Linked DNA regions of Homo sapiens: region 1 is linked to region 2. Evidence: fine-mapped expression QTL. A gene starts in region 2. The other region holds a variant in brackets. All regions are shown on one strand. Distances are between the middles of the regions.

Region 1 (11,867 bases), 160 kb after region 2:
AGGAGACCCACGAGAAGATGCCCATCTTCCAGACCTACTTCTAGCAGAACTGGGATGAAGTCTTGGACAACCTTTGCTATATTGGCTAGAAATCCATGGAAACTTCCAGAAGAAAGGAGCACCTGTTTCATGGACTGGCATTTTAGATGCCCGCATGGAATATGAAGCTTTAGCAAAGCTCAAGTTATGGTCTTGTGAAAAGGCATTAAATTATTTCTGTATATTATACAGTAGGTGTTTTAATTTTTTGAGAGTAGCAAATCTAGCTTCTTTGTACAGACTTAGAACTTATGCAAAGATTTTATCTTTTTCCCTCATATTTCTTAGAAATTTAATGAGCACTTGTTGTCTGTTTTCCTATGCCTTTTAGTCAAATACACATGTATCAGTGTTGACTTTTTCTTTCTTAGATCTGGTAAGAAGAAATCCACTTCTTTGAAGAAAAAAAGGGATGAAATAATTTTTTTTTTGCCCTAACACTTTCTTGAAGGTCATGGGCTTTATGAAAAAGTATTAAATAGTTACTTGAACCTGTGAGAAGTTGCAGCAAGCCTTAAAGTAGTTTATTCTTGCTAACGGTTAGAATAATGAACACTTGGGAATTGTTTGGGCTACATTTAGTTTCTCTTAATCAAAATCACCAGATGATAGAATTCACAAACTTTCTACATGTTATTACTTGGTATACTGATACTCATTTAAAATTAAAGATTCTTTGTCATGCAGAAAATAAAAGAAAAAGAAGAAATAAGACTTCTATATAATGCCATGGCTCTTTAAAAGATGCATTGTCAATAATGTAGAATAGGAAACTGCTTATCATTGGCACATGAAGGTAGCAGAGGAGCATGACTCCCTGGGTATGTATTCTGGATTCTAGGGGAGTGGGGAATGTGGGGGCAGGGAGTTTCTTTCTGAGCAGTCAAACAACAGGCTTGCCTAACATGAATTTGTGCTTTCAATTAATACGCCTCTGTGACCTGTGATAAAACTGGACATGGGCTGGTGATACCTAGTTTGCTTGGTAGCAGCAAAAGCAAAACCTCTCTGAAGGACTCACTTTAATCTAGATTGTACAAGATTCTTATAGATAAAGCTTTGATGAGGATAAGTTTACAATCCAACTTTATAAAACACAAAAGGAAACTAAACTTTGAGCAAAACTCCGTGGCAGGCCTTGCTCCACTTCCCCTCTGGTAATAGATGATCAGATGCAGGCTATAAAATGAATATTTTAAATATTTAGGATATGAGGAAAGAAATAAAGACATGAGATAGGAAGGAGAAATTGTGAAAAAAAGAGTAAGATTTGAAAAAGAGCACATAGAACTTCTAGATTTGAAACTGTAATAATAAAAGCAAAACATTAAATGGATGGATTCAAAAGAATTTTGGCTACAATTAAAGAATTGAAATCTTGAAGATAATCTAAGAAATTTTCTGGATTGTTACACATGAAGGTGAAGAAATGAAAAATATATGGGGTTAAAAGACATTGAGGATAGAGAGAGCAGGTCTGTCATGAGAGTAATAAGCATTCCAGGAAGAGAGACTAGAGATGACAATAAGCAGACAGTATTCAATGTGGGACTTTCCTAAAATCAATGAAAGATACGAGGTGCATTCAGATCTTGAGGAGGATAAGTGAAATACAGTTCAGCCTATATTTAGATGTACTCTAATGGAACTTAAGGATACCACGGGCACAGAGAGAATCTTAAAAATGGCCTAGGATTAAACAAAAGTTACAGTCAAAGGAAAACCGTAAATCTGAAAGCAGACTTCTTAAGAACAATGGATACCAGCAGACAATGAAATAATATATATGTGTTAAATGTCAAGGAAAATTAACCTTGATATTTAAGTCAACCTAATAGTTAATGATAGCCAGGATTTACTTGATGCTTTTAAAATAACTTTTTGTAGGGATGGTGTCTTGCTACGTTGCCCAGGCTGGTCTCTGGAACTTCTGGCCTCAAGCAGTCCTCCCAGCTCAGCCTCCCAAAGCACTAGCAATACAGGCATGAGCCACCACGCCTGGCTACTTAATGCTTTTTCTTTGGTAGTTATGTTTTAAACATTTCACATGTATTAACTCATTTAATTTTTATGACTATATAGCTATCATTGTTCGCATTTTATAGATTCAGAGAAAGCAGAGTAGTTAATTAGCTTGCTCACATTATATGTTTCTTATTTACTGATGCATTAGGGATTTAAGCCTAAGTAGTATGACTTCAAAATCTTTAAGCCACATAGTATACTGCATTTCTAACCCAGGATATTTTACTTAGAGACACTATCATTCAAATGTGAATGTAAAAAAGACTTTTTAAAGATAAGTGAAAACAGAGAGTTTATCATTTACAGACCCATCCTGAAAGAATTATTCAAGGATGTACTTCATGAAGAAGGAAATTATATACAAAAAGAAAGTAGTGAGATATAAGAGGGAATGATAAAGAGTGGGGAAAAAATAATCATACTTAGGAAACAGTAAATATGAGAAAAATATAAAGCATTCAGTGTATAAATTAATAATAATGAAAAAGTATGGGAAGTATTAAAAGCAAGGTGAACAATAGTAAGAAGGTAGTTTTAGCATCAGAGTTAAAATGACCAGAGGATCTGAATTGTTCAGGTGTTGGATGAGGATAATCTTAACCAGACTTTGAATAGTCAAGTATGCGTATTACTTTATTATATTTTTATTCTGAAGTATAGCACATGTGGTAGGTAGAATAATGGCCTCCCAAAGTGTCCATGTCCTAATTCCTGAACCTATGAAGATGTTACCTTACCTGGCAAAAGGGGCTTTGCAGGTTTGATTAAACTAAGGACTTTTAGATGGCAAAGCTATCCTGAATTATCCAGGTGTGTCCAGTCCTTAAAGGTAGCAGATCTTTCTGGCTGTGGTCAGGATGCTATAGAATTGTCAGATTGTTGCTGTCTTTGAAGATAGAGAAAGGGGCCTTGAGACAAGTAGTGTGGGCACCCTCTAGAAGCTGGAAAAGGTAAGGAAGTGGGTTCTCTCCTAGAACATCAGAAGGAACACATTTATTTGCTGACAACTGAATTTTAGCTCAGTCAGGTCCATTTTGGTTTCTGACCTACAGAACTGTAAGAGGATAAATTTGTGTTAGGTCACCAAGTTCGTGGTAATTTATTATGGCAGCATAGAAAAATAATATGGCATAAATACAGAAAACTACAAATAATGTATAAGGCTAGACATTTTTCTAAAGAGAACACCTGTGTAATTGCCATTGAGGGTCTTTTTTAAAATTTTGCTCATTCTGCTGTGTACGTAGCAACATCTCCTTGTGGTTTAATTTGCAGTACTGTGATATGGAAATTATCCTTTGCTAGTTACCCGTGTGGCAAATAATCTCCACTCTCTTTGCCATTTTATTCTCTGAGTAGTGAAGTCACTGTCATCTGATCAGGGATTGAGCGGTTTCAAGTTTCAAAAAGACTCTCCTATTTCCAGTTCTCCCCTATTCCTAGGGTGTAGTCCTCCAGAAAGTATCAGAAGTATTGGGTGATTACTAGGCCCCTCTCCTTGGCAGGTCCTGGACTCCTGTCCCAGCAAGATATGTTTGCGGAGGGCATACTTAACCCCTTAAACTTTTGGCTGCAATTTTCTGTGCACTTTCTCTTGGTCTATGGTCCTCAGGAAGTGAAAAGTACCTCTCAAGCTATGCTATTCAAAATGGTAGTCACTAGCCACATATGGATATAAATCTAAATCTAATAAAATTTTAAAAACTTACTTAGTCTCACTAGCTTTCCATGTGTTGGGATACATGCCATTCCCAATATTTTTGCAATTACAAGCAGTGCTTCAATGAATAACCTTGTCCACATGTATTTTTATATTATTGGTGTATTTTCAGCATATATTCCTGGAAGGAGACTGCTGGGTTTAAAAAGGCAAGAGTTGTCTTGATGTAGCCAAATTTTTCTTTAGTAGGACTGTTCTAATTTACATTCCCACCAGCCAAGTAGGAGTATGCCCGTTTCTCCACAATTTTGCCAACAGAATTTGTTGTCATATTTTAAAATTTGTGCCAATGTGATAGGTGAGAAATGGTATTTCAGTGTTGTTTCAATTTGTGCTTTTCTAATTAAGAGTTTTAACATTTTCCGATATGTTAGATAGGCATTACCTCTCTTGTGAATTTATTCCTGTCCTTACTCCATTCTTCGATAGGGTTTTTGTTCCTTTGTACCTTAATTTTTAGGAATTCTTACATATTCGTGTAACTAACCCTTTCTCTGTGGCATATATTAATATTTCTCCCAGTTGGTCAGTTGTCTTTTGACTTTGTTTATTGTGTCATACAATGTTTTCACTTTTTAATTTTTGTGTAGTCAAATTGTTCGATCTTTTACTGCCTCTGTATTTTGAGTAATAGTTGGAAAGCCTTTTCATACTCAGAGTTAAGGAAGAATTCTCTCACGTTTTCTTCTAGTACTTGCATGGTTTTATTTTTCTCTTCCCAATTTATTTGGAGTTTATTCTTTTGTATTGTGAGACATGGATCTGATTTTATTTTCCCAAATGACCACGCAGTTGTTCCAGCATCATTTATTAAAAAGTTTACCATTACCCTAGTGATTTGAAATGCCACCTTTGTCATATACCTAAATTTCCATCTGTACATGGGTTTAATTCTAGAGTTTCTATATTCTACTGGTCTGTCTGTCCATGCACTAGTACTTCATGATTTTAATTATAGAGATTTTAGTGTGTTTTAATGTCTGAGGAGGTAGTATTCCTCTGTGGGTTTTTTTCCTCATGTTTTTTTGTTTTGTTTTTTTTTTTTACATGTTATTGTATATTTGTTTTTCTATCTGAACTTTAGTAACAGTTTGTCTACTTTCATAAAATTGCTTATTGGTATTTTATTGTGATTGCATTGAATTTGTACATTAACTTAGGGAGACCAATATTTGTATAATGTTCAGTCATCTTATCCAATAATAGCGGATGTTGTTCTATTAGTTTATGTATTCTTAAATCTCTTTTAGAATTGCTTGAAAATATTCCTCTTAGATGTTTTGCACATTTTTTGTTAAATTTATTCCTAAGTTTTAAGTTTTCTCTGTTTATACTATCTACCTTCATTTCCTCTAACTATTTAATGTTTGTGTATATAAAAGCTATTTATATGTTAGTTTTGTATTCTGCTACTTCACTGATTTGATTGCTTGATTCTTTGGGATATTCCAGGTATCCTATCTTATCATCTGTGTTCTTTTCTAGTTGTATATAGTGCATAATTTTAAGAGTTTTTAGAAATTATTATTCTTTTGCATTTTACCTTGCTATGCAGTATGGGTGATGATCTGCGGCCTATGGTGTGGAAGACTCATTTCATTGACTTCTTAGGAAGTCCCAGATGGGCTGTCCTCTTTTAGCTTGAGAAAGGGCAAATGACAGTATAAAAGTGACAACTGAGATAATAGGGAAGGAATAATGAAAAAAAAGTGTGTCTTAGACTATATGAAGTTAGGCATCTTATAGGGATTCTAACAGGGAAAGATTGAAAAATGTCTTATAAATTTGAACAGTATGTTTCATGTACATGATAGATTATATTTTAAAAGATATGCAGAATGGCATAAGAAGAGAAAAGAAATGTGCCATAGGAATACAGAGAGAGAAGGGTATCTTATGTATGAGAGTAGTATAAGGACTTATTCACTGGACTAGCAACTGTTGAGCATACTCCAGGACTGTAGACATCTGGGAAAGCTGAATTTAAGTCAAAGTCAAACGGAGATAACACTGGATTATTGGGTAGGTTTTAGACATGGCAAGACATGTCTTCTTGAGAAGACATTCCAGGTAGGAGTAGACTAAAACAAGGAGACATAATCTGGTTAATATCATGTTTAGGTAAATGCAAGTAATTTAATTTGAGTGAAATAAAACTTTATGTAGAAGGGTAAGTGGTTCATGGGAGCAGGCCATAGAGGTGTTTAAGTGGAAGGCAAAAGATTTATTCTTTACCTTTCATATTGAAGGACTGTTAAAGGATTCTCAACGTAAAGTTTGAACATATGTGGTCAAATATGGACTCAAGGACATTGAATGTAAAAGTGGTTCTTTAGGGCCGGGCGCAGTGGCTCATGCCTGTAATCCCAGCATTTTGGGAGCCTGAGGTGGGTGAATCACCTTAGGTCAAGAGTTGGAAACCAGCCTGGCCAACATGGTGAAAGTCCATCTCTACTGAAAATACAAAAATTAGCCAGATGTGATTGTGGGCACCTGTAATCCCAGCTACTCAGGACGCCGAGGCAGGAGAATCGCTTGGACCTGGGAGGTGGAGGTTGCTGTGAGCCGAGATTGCACCACTGCACTTGAGCCTGGGCGACACAGCGAGACTCTGTCTCAAAATAAAAAAAAAAAAATTAAAAAAAAAAGTGATTATTTAATGTCTCACAGAGGGAAAGATAGGAAGTGGGGAGAACAAGTAAGACATCAAGGACTTTGGCTTTTATTTCAAATGGTTTCCCAAATTGTTCCTTGACTGAAATTGGTTTCAGTGTTTTTATCTTCCAGGGATGTTTTCTTACCATATATGAGTGTTTTATTGCCATATCTTCTCTCAATTTCTTTCATTCTTCCTGAATGCAGGATTATGAGAGCCTGTCTTGCTTAGTTTAGGCTCTGGAGCCAATTGCCTGGTTTGAATCCTGGCTTTACCACTTATTAGCTCTGTGGGTTCAGGCAAATTATTTGACCTCTTAGGGTATTTGTTTTTCATTTGTGTATAATGAGAATAGTACTAGTAGTAATTTTATAGGATTGTTATGACGATTTATGAATTAGTGCACACAAAACACTTAGAAATGGTACCTGGCACACAATAAGAAATCAGAGGGCTGTGTGTGGTGGCTCATGCCTGTAATCCCAGCACTTTGGGAAGTCGAGGCAGGAGGATCACTTGAGGCCAGGGGTTTGAGACCAGCCTGAGCAACATAGTGAGACCTTGTATCTGG[A/G]AAAAAAAAAAAAGTGTATAGACACACACACACACACACACACACACACACACACACGAAGGAAGGAAAAATAAATCAGGAAAAGGTAGCTGTTTTTATTAATTTTCAACAGTACTTATTTTTATTACTGTCAGCTTGTTCCTATTTTACCAGTTAGTCACTTTGCAACCTTGGTTAACTCTTTGTCAGATGACATTTTTCAGATGAATACGTTCATCCCTCAGTATCTGGGGGGGATTGCTTTAGTACCCCTCTTAAGCCCTCCTGCCGCCAGGCTACCAAAATCCATGGATGCTCAAGTCCCTGATACACAATGGTGTAGTATTTGTGATAACCTTTGCACATCCTCTTGTATACTTTAAATCTTCTGTAGATTACATATAATACCTAATACAATGTAAATGTTATGTAAATAGTTTTTATACTATATTGTTTAGGGAATAATGACAAGAAAAAATGGTCTGTACATGTTCAGTACAGACACTTTTTCCCCCAGATATTTTGGATACATGGCTGGTTGAATCCAGGGAAGTGGAGCCCACAGGTATGGAGGGCCAACTCTACCTTGAAGAAATGTATATAAATCCTTTAATTCAACAGCTTTGGAAAACTTTGTTTTCCTGGTAACCTTGAAAGTTTCTTTTTTACGTCCATTGATGTGATTTTTCTACTGAGAAAATGCCCTTGTTTGGTAGCTTCTCTCCATCACTTTCCTATCTCTTTTGTGTTTACTGATGAGTTTCTACTAAAACATTGAAAACCAGTAGACTATTATCATGGAAATTATCTTAGATTTATTTTATTGTTCAAAAGAGCTCTAAGAAAATTACTTTCATTTTGGTTGCTGTGGTGCTAATAATATAAGCATGCAAATGATTTTTTGCTGTATTTATTTTTCATTCTATATTTATTAATTTAATCCTTGAAATAGTCTTCTTAGAAAGGTATTGTTAATATTCATGCTTTATAGATGAGAAAAAAATCAATTGGTTATTTTCATATCCTGGAAAATACTCCAAGAATGGGAATCTGTGGTTTGCCATGGGAAATGCTTTGTTCTATACAGAAAGTCACCCTAAGTAGCCATCTTTCTTCATCAGAAATATGGAATGTGTTCTGTGATTTGTGTATTGATCTATTACAGTTGGATTTCTTTTGAATAGAATGTCAGCACTCTGTAGTTAAATGAGTAATATATAATGCCTACTGAAAAGTAATAGGTTGTAACATCTTTGAATATTAGTTAAGGAATTTTATATAACTTTGTAACTGAAACACATAGAATTTGGCTTCAGGGTTAGAAATGTTCTTAATGAATTGCCTTTTTAATTCACAGTGTTTCTTTTTTCTATATTGACTGGGTCATAAATTGAAGAATCTGTTTTCAGCTGATACATAGCTTATGGGGTTACAAATTATCTTTTATAGTTGATCTGTAATTAAAATGTGATTTCAGTTAGAATTATTAAAGACCCCAGAAATCTATAAAGAAAAATCAAGACTTGTTTCTATAGTTGATTAATTGTGCTATTTAATATTCTGTTGACAGTAGTATTGGGATATGGAAAAATTGACTATAAATCTGTTGACATTTAGTACAACATACTTTATTTTCTGTAGCTGCAGCAAAAAATTATTCCTGATCAGGACCAACTGATGGCAATAGCACTAGAGTGCATCTATACCTGTGAACGAAATGATCAACTCTGTCTTTGCTATGACCTACTAGAATGTCTGCCAGAAAGAGGATATGGGTAAGAATACACAGTATGCCAGTCTTATTGTGTTTTTTTATTCTAACAGTTAAAACAAAAACGTTGCTTCCCCAAATGCTTACCTTAGAGAATTTTGGGAATGTGAAAAAAACATAAGGAAGAAAATAAAATTATCTGCAATCCTATTGCCTAGGATAAACATTTCTTGTCCTACCAATATATGGGAAGTTCTATATTTTGTTCAACTGTAATTATAATTAAATTCTGAATTTTGTCAAACATGATAATTTCCTATTGAAAAACAAAAATACCACCACGATCTCCACAAAAACTACTTTTTATAAGTCAGTAGGTAGTAATTGTGTTTTTAATGAAGCATTTTTCATATTTATTGGCTAATTATATTTATTCTATGAATTATTTCTTCTTGGCCTTTGCCTATAGTACTTCTTTTAAGTAGTGAATGTACCTAATTTTTAACTGCTTTTATGTTTAAATGGAAACGTATATAATATGCTTTTGGATTATTTAGTTGTATGCAAGTCAAATTTGTATGTTTTCTTTGGAAGTCAGGTAGCAATCTAATCCCTCTATTAAATTTAGCACATATGATAAATTTCACATCTGGAGACATAAATAACAACACATGAAAGAGTGGTGAATACCAGCAGACCTGTTTTAAACTTTTATGACTTTTAACCAAGTCACTTTACTTCTTTGGTCATTAGTTTCCTGATTTACAAAATCAGATATTTAGACAAGAAAGCCTCATTCTCTGTTTTCTCTTTCTCTTTGCTCTCTTTTTATCTTCTCCCTCTTTTCTCTCTTTTCCTTTTTCTTTTAAGGACATTTTTATTTCTTCTTTTTATTTTGGGAGGGGGGGCTCATATCTGACTAAAGGAAATTTTTATTTCTTATGAAGCAAATGATAGCAGTCACCAATTTTGCAATCTACCATGAAAGAGTTATTCATGCAGTCATTAGTGGTACTGAAATCAGGTGAAAGATTGATGATAAAAGGTTATTTGCATGATACCAAAGTATTACCCTAGTGACTTTTTTTTTTTAAGTTTCAAAGTTGGGCTCTAACTGCCATGATCTTAACCAAGTCGTGAAGGGTGGCATAACTTACAGTCAGACAGCCTGACCTTACGTGCCTCCTGATGTGATCCAATATGAAGTACCTGGTCTTACAGCATCCCTTAAGAAATATTTTTGCTAAAGTTGTTTACCCTGAGTCTAATCAGTCTTTTAGGTTGAACTTCTAATTTGCAGTTAATACGGGAAATAGAGAGACAAGGTAAATAACACCATGAAGAAAGCAGTAAGACAACTACTGAATGTGGGATATTCTATGCATTAACTGGTCTTTTTACTTTAAACAGTTAGTGTCATTTAGGAAGACAAAATGTGGGGCCGTGGGGAGGCACTTTTCTAAAATAAAGGAGCCTAAAGGGACATGATCTTCCTCTGATTTTTAAATATAAATAATGTATGAACATAAAGTCAGGGAATTCTAAGACTGGTATTAGTAATATCAGCTGATAAGCAGCTGTTTGCTGCCCACTTTTCCCATCCTTGGATTCCTATCTTCAAAAAGCAAATACTTTCACTGGTAGGTTTTTCCTTGTCTTTGCCTACCTCCTTTAAAATGTTATGCTCGTGTTGTTATTTTTTGATTTTGCAATTTTAGATCATTTTTGACTTCCTTTTATGGAAGTCCTTTCCCTTCTCCCATATCCACTTCTCCTACCATTCTCCAGTGTTTTCATCATTATGATTACGTAAATATTGTTTATACTGCGGAACTAGGTGTGATTTATTTTCCTTTTAATACAACTCTCTGTTTTTCCTGGATTGAATAATTTCCTTTTCTGTTGTTTTCTTTTTTTCCATCACCCTCATGAACTACTTGCAGTCGTGAAAACTATTTAATGATCTCTCTATTCCTTTCATGTTTTTTTTTTTCTCTGTCTCTTCTTTTCTCGCTCTCTTCCTTTTGAAACATCCTTCTTGGAATTGGTATGAATGAATTGTTCTCTGTGTCTGTTGTCCATCTATTATCCCGGGACTTCGTTTGCCTCTCTCTCGTGTTGCATATTGCATTTCTTGGTTTTCCTTTCTTCTTTCTTCACTTTTTCCTCATTTTGGTGGAGCATACTGTCAAATAGCTTCCTGTCAAAGATTGCCTGGGAGGTATTTTTTAAAAGACTGTCACATATTAGGAAAATGCCACAATTGCACACTTTTACTTGGTAGAAGGTTTAATTGTACATGGAATCATAGACTTAGAATCCTTATCTTGTGAATTTTGAAGGTATGACTCTTGTCTTTTCTTTCTAGTATTGTTGAGAAGTTCAATGGCATTCTGAATAATCCCTATTTAAATATGGATTTTTTTTAAAGAAGATTTCAATATCTTCATTTTTTGTGTTTCTGTTTCATATGTAAATTCATTGTGGTGTTCACTGAATGGTCTAATCCATTCTGGAAATTCATAACCTTCAGACCTTTAGGGTATGTTCTTATATTTTTTCCTTGATAAGTTTATTTGTACTCCTCTTTTTTCTTCCTTCCTTCTTCATGTAGGGAAAGGTAAATCAGAGTGGACTCAGCATCTGTTTGTTATTCAGACCTGTACCTGAACACAGGCTACCTCACATCCCTAGTAGAGAGCAGCAGAGTGTAGCAAGTGTGTCTCTGAGAACTGTAGGCCTTCCATAGGCAGCCAAAGGCAGGTAAACTAGATAGTCTTAATAGATTTTTGTAGCAAACTGTTGTTCCCATCATTTAAAAACCTCAACCCAAAGGCTATCAGTGTGGCAGTAGTCAAATTGCTTTTCCCTGGAGGGTGACAAGAGATGCAGAAGCCCCTGGTTCCTCCGAGAGCTGGAGTGGCAGGGAGTTTCTTCCTTGCTGGGCTCTGTGGGAACCTTATGATTCCTCTGTCAGCTTCATATCTCATTTCTTGTTCCTAAGTCGACCAGGCAAAATCACTGACTTCCAACTCGTGTGCATAACTCTTAAAAGTAAATATATTAGGCTTTGTTTTCCACTAAGGTCAAATAGCATAAATATCAATCAGAGCTTATCTATTAATTATTAAATAGTAATTTGTCTACTTCGAGGAGATTGTCATAG
Region 2 (11,867 bases):
TGCCTAATTTTTGTATTTTTATTTTTTTTTAGTAGAGATGGGGTTTCACCATGTTGGCCAGGCTGGTCTCGAACTCCTGACCTCAGGTAATCTGCCCGCCTCGGCCTCCCAAAGCGCTGGGATTACAGGAGTGAGCCACCACGCCTGGCCAAAAAATGATTCCTTTATGTGAGATGATGTTAAGTTTTTGTCTAATTCTAAGAAAGAATGTCTGTGGTCATCAGCAAAGTGAATGAGGATTATATTCAGTTCAGTTGAAGTACACTTAATATGCTATAAGGCTAGGAAGAAATAGGAAAATTTTTCTAAATTTATTTCCTTTTCATCAAAGGCTTATATCATCATCAGATCACTACTCTTTGAAGTGGGTAAATCGTAGTACCTTCTCTGTTAGACAAAAACTATTTCATTTGTGGCTTTACCATTACCAGCATGTGACCTTGGTTGGGTCACAGTGATTTAGAGCCTCAGTTTACTAAAGTACATCTATATCTACTTGTAGATACCTGGTATAGTGCTTGAAGCAGGGTAGGTACACAAAACATAGTGATGATGATAATGATGATGATGCCTACTTTGAAACTGTCTCAGATTTTATTTATCTTATTTCCTTAAGCAGTTTACAGTTACCATTTGTGTTGGTTATTTGGAAAACATAATTTTTCTCTTCAGAATGATTTATTCATAAAAAAGAAACTAAGAGAGAGAGAAAAGAGGCTGGGTGCAGTGGCTCACACCTGCAATGTCAGCACTTTGGGAGGCTGAGAGGTGCGAGGCTCACTTGAGGCCAGGAGTTCAAGAACAGTCTGGGCAACATAGCAAGACTCTGTCTCTCCAAACATTTAAAAGAAAAAAAAAAGACTTATTCATGATTTCAAATATTTTTGAACCAGAGATGGACTTTCAGCTAAATTAAGGAGTTGATTAGATGATCACAATAGTATTTGTCAACCAAACTCTTACATATAATGTATTTAATTTTCCTTTGACAGGTTGATAATACCCCAGTTCCACGTGTTGGTACTCCTGGTCATCCTTAACTGTTTATTTTCACTTTGAACCATCTGAGTGCTCCATCTATGTTTTTAAATAATCTTTTCCATGACGTTCTCGGTAACATGTGGTAGTTTAAAGAAAAAGCACGGGATCAAGACCTGAGGACCTTGTCTGAATTTTAGCTCTGTTGTAATCTTGGATTTCTCTAAGCTTTAATATTCTTATCTGTGAAATAGAGATAGACTCTGTCTTCTGAGTCTGTCAATTTTAGCAGTGGCTGTGAGGATGGAAAAGCTCAGTAAGCTATGAACACTCTCAATTATTAACTAATAACACCAATCTGTCAATTCAGAAGCAACATTGCAGAGATCCATACACAACATACAGATTCTAAATTTGGTAAATCTTTAGCTGGGTGTGGTGACACGTGCATGTAGTCCCAGCTATTTGGGAGGCTGAGACAAGAGGATCGCTTGCATCCAGGAGGTTGAGGCTACAGTGAGCTGTGTTTGCGCCACTGCACTCCAGCCTGGGTGACACAGCAAGAGCCTGTCTTAAATAAATACGTACATAAATAAATAAGGTAAAATCCTTATTCCAACCCGTGTCTGATATTCTATATTTTAAGGTAAAATAAATAATGCAAACTCCACTGGTAGAAACACCAAGAGAGGGGTGGTTTCAATGCCTAGAAACTCAAACTAGTTGAAGCATAAAAGAGAATGAACTAGATCACTTACCTGGGAAGATGGAATCATACAGGTGTCTCTTGTTTCAAGCATGCTTGTATCAGATGAAGTCTCTACCTCTTTCTCTTCTCAGTTTTTTTCAATGTATTGGTTTCATTCTTTCACTATATAGACAGGCTTTCTCTCTGGAATGAATAAGATGGATGCTAATAACCCCAATATTCTTCAAACTCTGTGACCCAAAAAGGCAAGGAGCCTTTTCCTCCATTTCCACTTAAAAAAAAAAAAAAATCCCAGGGAAGGATTCTCAACCTGATGCTCAAAGTAGCAGGAATGGAGTTCTTTGGGTCAAGGGGGCAGAGTTTGGGGATTGGCGGCCCCACTAGGAATTATCTGACTGAGTGAATGAAGAGCAGCTAGAACAGTCTCCGAAGGAAGCAAAGGGCCTGGGCAGACAAAAATGACCAGTGTCACTACAAGCACGAGGGAAGAAAGAAGAGAATAATGACGAACAGAAGAGTCTTGCTATCCTTGTGAAACGCTCACCACCTCTTCATTAAATTACCCACTCTGCTGTTTAGGATTAGTGTGACAATCATCTCAGTTTGCCCATGACAGCCCTGTTTCATGCTTGTTGTCCTAGCATAACTATTAAAATCATGGCTTTTTCTTTTCAAAAATATCCCAGTTTGGATACTTTGCTATATAGTCACTGTAAATAAGACCAAGTAGCAATTTGGCTTCAGCCACTCAATCTGTTTTAAGTCATCCTATTCCTTTGATTCAGTTGAACTTGATCAGATCTTTGTCTTTTCTTTTCCAACCCGTGTCTGATATTCAACATTTGGAGTTCTTCTTGTGGCATACATATTCTTACCATCTTCTTCCCTTTTATTGGTCACCTCACATTTCTCCCCTTCCAGGAACTCTTCTGGATTTTAACTAGTGGTGCTGAAGGTTTAAGAACCCACTTACCTGCTCAGAGCATCTCTGCTAGTAGAATTTTTCTTCCAGGGATTGCTTCAAGTTAAATGTATACTCCCTCTCCAAATAGCATAGATTCATCCTGTGACACTTCGGTTGTTGTTTCTTCAGAGTAGAAGCTCTCTGCCAGGCATGAGTTTATGTTTTCTGTCCTTTTGTACATGCTATGGTAAGTGGGGTATGGATGAGGATGGATAAAACAATTAACATGGTGTGAGGCTGGGCATGGTGGTGCGTGCCTGTAATCCCTGCACTGTGGGAGGCCGAGGCAGATCACTTGAGCCCAGAAGTCCAAGACCCCCCATCTCTACAAAAAATAATAAAGTTAGCCCAGCATGGTGGCATGCACCTGTGGTCCCAGCAACTCAGGAGGCTGAGGTGGGAGGATTGCTTGAGCCCAGGAAGTAGAGATTTCAGTTAGCTCTCTTTGTGCCACTGCACTCTGGCCTCAGTGAAAGAGTGAGACCCTGTTTCAAAAACAAAAACAAACAAACAAAAATAGTGTGATGATGGTAAAATAAATAAATTCTTCATGGTGTATTTGCAGTGGTCCCCTTTGCACACCAGCTAAGAAGGAAGCATCCTTTGCCAGTTTGACCAGCTATCTCCTGGCCGTGGTTGTACAGATTGAGTGAAAGTGGTGAAGAGAGTGATGAAACAGAAAGCAACCCCAATATCTATCTGAGAAAGGATGAGACAGAGGAATAAAGAGCCAAGGAAACTTGGTGTGGAGAAATAGGTGGGGTTGTACTGAGGTACTGGAGGACTCCAGTAACCAGCCCTCACACCGCATTCCATGTGCATGGTGTTCCTGCCTCTTCATGTTCTACCGCATGCAATGTGGGCGGGGCTCCCCGGAGGTATACAGTTTGTCAGCCTTGTGCGGTAGGGAGAAGACACGTCTGGTGTTCACAATGAGGGGTTTGATTGAAGGGCACAGCTGCTATGCAGAGAAATACTATGGGGAGACAATGTGTAAAAGATTTTCTGGGAAGTCTGTCATTTATTCAACAAATAATATATATTTTGTCCTCTGCTCTATGCCAGGCACTGTTATAAATTCTGGGGATATAGCAGGGATGGATATAGCATTTGCATGCATATAGATAGAGCACCTGGCATGGCTTACCTTTTAGTGAATGGAGACAGATAATAAGCAAATATACTGTATAGCCATTTAAGTGATGACAAGTGTAATGGAAAAAATAATAGAGCAGCTCTGGAAAGCTGGAGTTGGAGAATGGTCATTGCAAATTTAAAAATGAGCAGTCAAGGTAGGCTTCAGAGAGAGACGACATTTGAGCAAAAACTTGAAGGAGATAAGGGAGGAACCAGGTAAACATCTGGTAGAAAGCCTTCCAAGTGGAGGGGACAGGCTTTGCAGAACTCCTGAAGTTGATGTGTGTCTGGTGTGTTCAGAAATAGAGCCAGTGTGGCTGAAGGTAGTAGGGGGAGCAGGAAATGAGGTGTGAGATTTAGGGGAGCAGGCAGATGACGTAGGGCTTTGAGGTCATTAAACTTTGAGAGAAATGGGAGCTGGTTAGAGGCTTCCCAGCAGAGGCTTTTAATTGCATCACCGCCTAATGCATCTTGATGGATATCATGAATATAATTATCTCAAGGGATATTCAGTATTTGTGTTTCTTTTGATGTGAAACAGTGTAATACTTTGTACAGTATATATTCATTCATGTTACAGTAGGCTCTGCTTATAACTGTCCACAAAGAGGTATTTGTTGAATGAATGAATGAATGAACAAATGGGGTTGACCTTTTCGCTCCCTCCATGCGGGTTCTCAACCTATTATTTCAACTTTATTGCCCCTACACCCTTTCTCAACTTGGGTTCTATTCACCCGTCTTGTTGAGTACTAATTAGGAAAAAAAAAAAGGCAGGCTAGTGGGAGCAGGGAAAAACAAAGAGATAAGGCAAATTAGCTATACGTCTGTCTTTCTTCATGGTCCAAAACATATAAACAAAAGGAAGAAACAAATAAGCCATAGGTCTACTTTTCTTTATGGCCCAGGACATATGGCCCTTCTACCCAGATAACGTACTTAACTCACAAACTTCCTGCTTACCTTCAAATGCCTCAATTTCTGAAACACTTCAGCTGACAAAAAAAAAAAAAAAAAAAGAAAGAAAGAAAAAAAAAAAGCAAGTTAACTCCCTGCTACCTGGTGTTATCAATCACTCCAAGTTCCAGTCTATAAAATTCTCAACAAGCCTTTGTTTCCTAGCAATGAGCTCCTCCTCTGCTGAGTCGGCCCGCTGCTCCCTGGCAACGAACTTTCATACTTTCTTTAATCTGTCTTTCTTTATCTACCACTGTCTTGGTAAATTCTTTTACTCCCACACTGAGAAAGTCGTCACTCACTGGCGACACGTTGAAAGAGTTCTTTCAACTCTGTATTTCTGCCTCTGTCTCTGCTCATTCCATTTCCCGCTACTTGAAATGCTTCTCCAGTAGATTAAAATTCTGCCTATTGTTAAAGACGCAGGGACAAGCTCCACGTCCTCCAGGAAATCCCTGCAGACTCTGGCCTTCGTTGCCTTTTCTGAGCTCCTGTAGCATCCTTCCTCTGCTACCTTTCATTGGATAACTTTAGTTGTTTATTTTAAAACCACTGTTTGAACTCTCTCTACGTGTTAGGCAAAGAATATACAAATGAACATTAGCATTTCAGTGGGGTACCTTTACCATTTCTGTTTTATGGAAACTGAGTTATAAGAGAGGCTCAATGACTTGGCCGATCTCATGTAGATTAATGAACAAGGAGTGTATCAGGACCGGGACACAAGTCGTTCCCAAGACAAGCAATAGTCCCTGTCCTTCCTACTCATAAAAGGGTTAACCTAGCATTTCCTTGCCGTGAAACAAAAGCGGCCGCGGATAGAGAAGCTTGTCCTGTGAGGGATTCCGTAGAGACACTCCTCCGCTGCCTGAGTCCTCGGCGAACATGGCGGCCCCCGAGTCAGGGCCGGCTTTGAGTCCAGGCACTGCAGAGGGTGAGGAGGAGACGATTCTCTATGACTTGTTGGTCAACACCGAGTGGCCACCGGAGACTGAAGTACAGGTGAACCAGGCCCATCTACAGCAGCAGCCAGCTTGGCGCGGGCGCTTCGTGGGTAGAGCCACGTAGCAGGAGCCACGTAGGGGAGTGGAGACGGGTGGGTGGGGGACTAGGGCCGGTTGGCTTGTGCGGTCGCCTTGGCAACGGCACCTTGGGCTAGCGGGGGTCTAGGGCGGGGTGGGGTGGTGGTCCCTGAGATTCTTCCTGGGCTCAGAATTCGGTTGTTGGGGGCTGGAACTTCGTGCTCTGGGGAGCGTACGATCCCACTTTGGTTCTCAGTTTCGCTCTCTGTATTGGGAGGAGAGGGGATTGTTAGTGTCGCTCTCTGTATTAGGAGGGGAAGGCACAGCGCTGGACTCGAGGGTCCTTTCTCCTATCTGGACCCTCAGTGGTCCCTTCTCGCGGTCTGGCTAGGGCTAGTCTGGGCCGACGCTCAACTGCGATGGGAGAATTTTCCAGGACCTTACAGTCTGCAGCATCTGCCAGGCTGGTGCAGAGCGCAGAATCTGAGCCTTTACCCATACTGGGGGCTGGATCGCGCCAGGTCTTGTGTGTTTCAATAAAAGAGCATTTAATAAGGGTGTGCGTGTCCGTTCGTCTGTCTCGGTGTCACAGGTGCTGTGCTAGGTGCTAAGGATACAGAGATGAATATGTTTTCGTGGAGCTTCTCGTCTAGAGGGGAGACAGTCCCGTAAACGTTTTTCATAACCTAGCGTTTTATGCGCTATAGTTAGCGATGTGAGCAAAATGCCACGGAAGTGCAGAGTAAAGAGCTGCTGACTGGGATTGGGATCTCCGCTACAGAAGGGTTATAGAGGTTGATAATTTATGGACTGGATCTTGGGATTATCAGTTGTTTGGTAGTGAAGGCCTCCCGGGTCTGTGATGAAGAGTAGGAACCATGGATCCATGTTTATTTTATTTTATTTTTTATTATTATTATTTTTTGGATCCATGTTTATTTAACAGATATTTATTGAGTGCTTAACACGTGCCAGTTACTGTTTTAGACCCAGAGGAAGCAGCCAGATCGAAAAGAACCTTTATTAAAGATTATGTAGTCCAGCCCATGTGAGTTATCTTACATTTTTTCTGAGTGTTTCTTTGCTGGAGAAACGACTCATTTTTCAGCCCAAAGTTTGTATTTTTTTCCTCTGTAGCCTCCTTCCCACTGCAGTTTGTGCTTATCATGAATAATTTATTTTGTAGACGGGTAGAGATCTGCATATATTACTGTTTAATTTCAAGTACTTAGTTTGTCTTAATGTGAATATTTTTTGGGTTATGCAGCTAGGAAGCTGTTGCTGAGGCAGCTGGTTAGATAAGTTTCCACTCCTTAACACTCATTGGTTAATTGCAGTAATGTTTCAGAATGCTTACCATAAATTGATTCCAAAAAAGTAACCACAGAATTAACTTACTTTGAAACCCTTAGCACTTTGTTTTGTGTTTGTGTGTTGGGGGTGGGGGAGTTCAATTGATTTCTGCATTCTATCGATTTCTGCATTCTGTTGATTTCAGCTGTTGAATTATAAGCTCTTGGAGGGCAGACATCTGATTCATCTTTATATCTCTTCCCAGGGCCAAATTGTGTCTTGCATGAATCCAACAATCAATTCATGTTTATTGAGTGAAATAACTTTTCTGTGTTTTTTAAAAAAATCTGTCTACACTTACTGTATGTCCATTGTGCTTTTCTTGACAGCACTTTAGTGCATCTTATGCAGTGCCTAGCGTCATGAACCTACCCACGGTGTGTTCAGTCTATACTTATGGAATGGAATTATTTAATATAGCAATTACGTATCTGTGTATGTTTTGTTAGTAGCATTGTCTGTATAGATACACAACAGATAGTCAATGAATTGGCCTTGGAGATATGACCACTTTTCCTGTGAGCAAAACTTACAGCCTCAATAGAGTATGCTGAACTGGCAACCAGTATGGTCTTTGGCCTTGACTTCTCTTGTCTTTGGATTGGTTTTTGATTTGGAAACAGTTTCCAGCTTCAATCCTTGTTCTTTCCTGCAAGGTTAGTCCTGACATGTGCCTGTAGCTCTGCTATGCTCACTTTTCTCCTATTGTCCCGCGTCCTGTGTCTACTTTTTTTTTTTTTTTTTTTTTTTTTGAGGCAGGGTCTCACTCTGTCACCCAGGCTGGAGTGCAGTGGCATGATCAGGGCTCACTGTAGCTTCGTAGCTTCAACCTCCTGGGTCACCTCAGCTTCCCAAGTAGCTGGGACTATAGGCATGCACCGCCATGCCTGGCCAATTTTTGTATTTTTTGTAGAGATGAGGTTTTGCCACGTTGCTCAGGCAGGTCTGGAGCTCCTGGGCTCAAGCAGTCAGCCCACCTTGGCATCCCAAAGTGCTGAGATTACAGGCGTGAGCCACTGCACCTGAACATCCAGTCTTTAAGTAGTTTTAAGACACTGCTTCCCTGTGCCCAAAACTCTGAGTATTAGTAAATAAAAATAAGTTTACATATTGTATAAGTAATACTGGTCTAATACTACTAGAAGATTCAAATGTAAGTGTTTTTTGTTTTAAATTCCAGCCTAGAGGCAACCAAAAACATGGTGCATCCTTTATCATCACGAAAGCAATTCGAGGTAAATATAGCTTATTTCTCTACAGTAATGATATGGTTAACAGTTAAAATGTGTTCTTTAGACTTCTGATGTGGAGCCTAATAAAAGTAATGTGTGTTATCTGAGTTTAATTATATATATATTTATATATACACACATATGTATGTATATGTATACATTTGTATATTTACGCATGCACGTTTTTAGCTCTAATGCAGCTTAGAGCTAAAGTATATAGCTTTGGTTTAACCATTATGGATGTATTCTAGAACAGGTGTCCTCAATTCCTGGGCCATGGACTGGTACCAGTCTGTGGTCTGTTAGGAAACAGGCTGCATAGCAGGAGGTGAGCGATGGGTGAGTGAGCATTACCACCTGAGCTCCACTTCCTGTCAGATAAGCGGCAGCATTAGATTATCAGGGAAGTGCAAACCCTATTGTGAACTGCACGTGTGAGGGATCTAGGTTGCATGGAAAAATTGTCTTCCACAAAACCAGTCCCTGGTGCCAAAAAGGTTGGGGGACGCTGTTCTAGAAGGAATGAAGGTCAAAGCCAGTATGAGTCTCAGAAAGTCAGTGGATGTTGAAGGTGAAAATACACTGAGAGACTATTTTAAGAGGTCTATGTGGTGTTTCAGATAGATCTGGTCAGAGATACTCAAATTACAGATTTGATAAGCCAGGGTATTCATTTAACTCCTGACAAATTTTACGTATGAACTAACAAGAGTCTGAGAAAGGATTGAGCACTAGGTTTACTGAGCTGGTGCCATGACGGGTTTACCATATTCATTAATAGAGTCCTTTTATCAGACCAGAAAGGTGCCGTTACTCCTTTATGATTTTAGATAAGAAAACTTGCTCAAGGTCATTCATTTGGAATTTGACTGCATGTCTTTCTGGCTTCAAAGTCCATCCTTATACCAGTGAATTTAAGTTCCTTATAAAGAGAAAATTCATTTTCACAGAAGTTAAGTACTTGAAATTAACTGTAATCTTCTGATTATCCTTTTATCTTCTGATAAAATTACAGTTAATTATAGTTAATTTTATCTTCTGATACAAGAAGCACTAGCATATTCAGTTTTCATAATGACAAATGCTTTTAAATTTTGAGAATTTAGAAAATGTGTACAAATAATAAAAATTCATTGTAGAAAATACAGACACTATAGATAACTACAAATTAGAAAAAAATTTGTCCTCATACCACCTAGAGAGAATCTGTTATTCTTTAGATATTTTTCCATTGATATATACCTAACTGCATACACAGGTACACACATACATGTACATTTAGGATGATAGAAAGCATTGTTTTTTATAGCGTGTTAGAGGTTTTGTTTTCCGTGGGCTTTCCCATTTTAGGTATTACTGTTTTAAAAATCTTTGCTATAAAGTGTAAAATATATCTTGCTTTAATTTTTTATACAAATATTTTGGTTTCTAAGGGGTGATTATTATAACTTCTAGTCCATGGTTTCATGAAAGCTTCTTAGATTAAATTTAACATCTCAAACTGCTTTTATTTCTTGAACAGTTAGGAAATACTTGAAACTTTTGAATAACACACAAACATGGAATTTAATAAGTATATGACCCTGTAAATGTTACAGTGTATATTAGGTTATATTTAGTCTCTCATTTTAAGACTTGAGTTCTTTATTTTTTTTAATGACTCGCTCTGTAGTATATTTTAGATTTCTCATCTATAAATCTAATTTGAAAATGATTCTTAACAGCTGATTTATATTTGGCTTTGCCATTTCTTTTGATTACAGATCGTTTATTATTTTTACGCCAATACATCTGGTACAGGTGAGTCTTCGGTTCTTCAGAGAAACAGTATGAACATCAAATATAAACAATATTGTTCTATATATGATTTGTTTTCATAATTGAATTCTAGATCATGATAAAGTTGCTGACATTCAGGCAAACTCAGTATGAGACATTTCAAACATTTAGGTAGAATCTGACAAGATATCTCAGTAGACTTAGGGTAGTTTTTGTTCCCTTAGTTACTATTAAGAATGTCTCATGACAATTTCTGCTTCCTCTGATGACTATTCTCAGGCTTATCTTGAATGTCCATATGAAGCATCTGTAGCCTGCATATCTTTTAAAATACATTTTTGTTCTTGTCATGTCATCTCACTTGTGGTTAATATTCAACTGCTGTATATCAGAGAAGGTTCTTTAGGTTTCAGTTCTTGTATATTTTTTAATTCCTTGAGTGTTAAGTATATTTGCAGGGATGATGCTAATTTCCAGCTTTAGAAAGAACAAAGAAATTATTATTATGACAAAAAAGTTATAATTCTGCTTTTAGATACATGTGTAGGAATTGTTTTATAGAATTATTTACATAGATTGCTTCTTCGTTGAGGATATCTTGTCGTAAAGTTCCAGAGATAATATAGTTCCATAAAAGAGACCTTTGGCGTTCTCTAGGACTTGCTCCAACGTCTTTCTGCTTTTACTCTATGTATGTGTGTGTGTATGTGCATACATGTATATATGTATGCATATTTACAATTTCTATACTTAATTGTGTCACTTTTTTTGTGGGTGTGGGATATGATAGGATAGAGCAATGAGTAGGAAGAGAGAGTGGAAGGAGAGGATAGGAGTGTGGGAGGTGGGCTGTGTTTTCTGACTTCTCTAGGCGACAGCTTGTTAGTCCTGAACACCCTTGGATGAGGTGTCAAGCTTGTCTTGTTCAGGTTGCTGCTTGATAATTCTTTTTTTTATTTATTGAGAAGGAAGACTCAAAAAGTTAACTCTGCTACAAGCCCTGTCCTCTGTGTGAGAACCTTATGATCAGGCATCAGAAGTAGGTATCTTTTTGTCTCCCTTCCTCCTGAGAAGCCTTTTTCCTTGAATCATTGTACAGGTTGCAAATGCACCATTAAGTGATTCATCTGTCTCATGATATGCTGCTTTCAAAAAGATTATAGTTCAATTTGTGCTCTTGAGTTTATGGTAATTAAACCCAAAGGTTTTGGGGTCAGTATTTGTTTCAAGTGACTTTTTCTTCTTTTTTTAAAAAAGTTCTTTTAATTATGAAATATAAACATACTGAGAATTATTGACAATATAATAAACCTGTATCAGCTAGCTCTTTTTGTTTTTATGCAAAATGTTACATCTCAAGTCCTTTCCCTTTTTCTTTTCCCTTCCCTTCTAGAGGAAATTATCATCCTCATATAGGTAGTATTCACATACATGTTTTGTATCTTCATTATATTTTTGTAACTGTCTTTTGATATTATTTTGTGTTTTAAAAAATGAGCGTAAATGTACTACATGTATATTACTAATTTTTTTTTTTTTTTTAAGAGAGGGTCTTATTGTGTTGGTCAGGCTGGAGTATAGTGGCTATTCACAGGCAAGATCATGGTACACTGTAGCTTTAAACTCCTGTGCTCAAGCAATCCTCCTGCCTTAGCCTCCCGTGTAGCTGCGACTATAGGCACATACCATTGTGCCTGGCCACTAACATTTTGGAATCCTATTTTGTGTTTTCTGAT

What was found. PIP is the estimated chance that this variant, and not a neighbour inherited with it, causes the effect.
Region 1: its variant is fine-mapped to the expression of NBAS in whole blood (INTERVAL, PIP above 0.99).

What each region holds. Positions count from the first base shown.
Region 1 is chr2:15,399,066-15,410,932 of GRCh38, reverse strand. It overlaps NBAS (NBAS subunit of NRZ tethering complex), which reads left to right. Exons shown (of 52, transcript NM_015909.4): 26 at 8,632-8,765. Among named protein-coding and RNA genes, the nearest start is that of NBAS, 160 kb to the left of the region's middle. The variant A/G (reference allele first, on the strand shown) is at 7,012.
Region 2 is chr2:15,555,068-15,566,934 of GRCh38, reverse strand. It overlaps NBAS (NBAS subunit of NRZ tethering complex), which reads left to right and starts at 5,601. Exons shown (of 52, transcript NM_015909.4): 1 at 5,601-5,747; 2 at 8,301-8,355; 3 at 10,116-10,152. The coding sequence starts at 5,631. It overlaps LOC105373440 (a long non-coding RNA gene), which reads right to left and starts at 4,787. Exons shown (of 4, transcript XR_001739297.2): 1 at 4,752-4,787; 2 at 2,661-2,833; 3 at 1,737-1,870. RefSeq lists an enhancer at 5,402-5,811.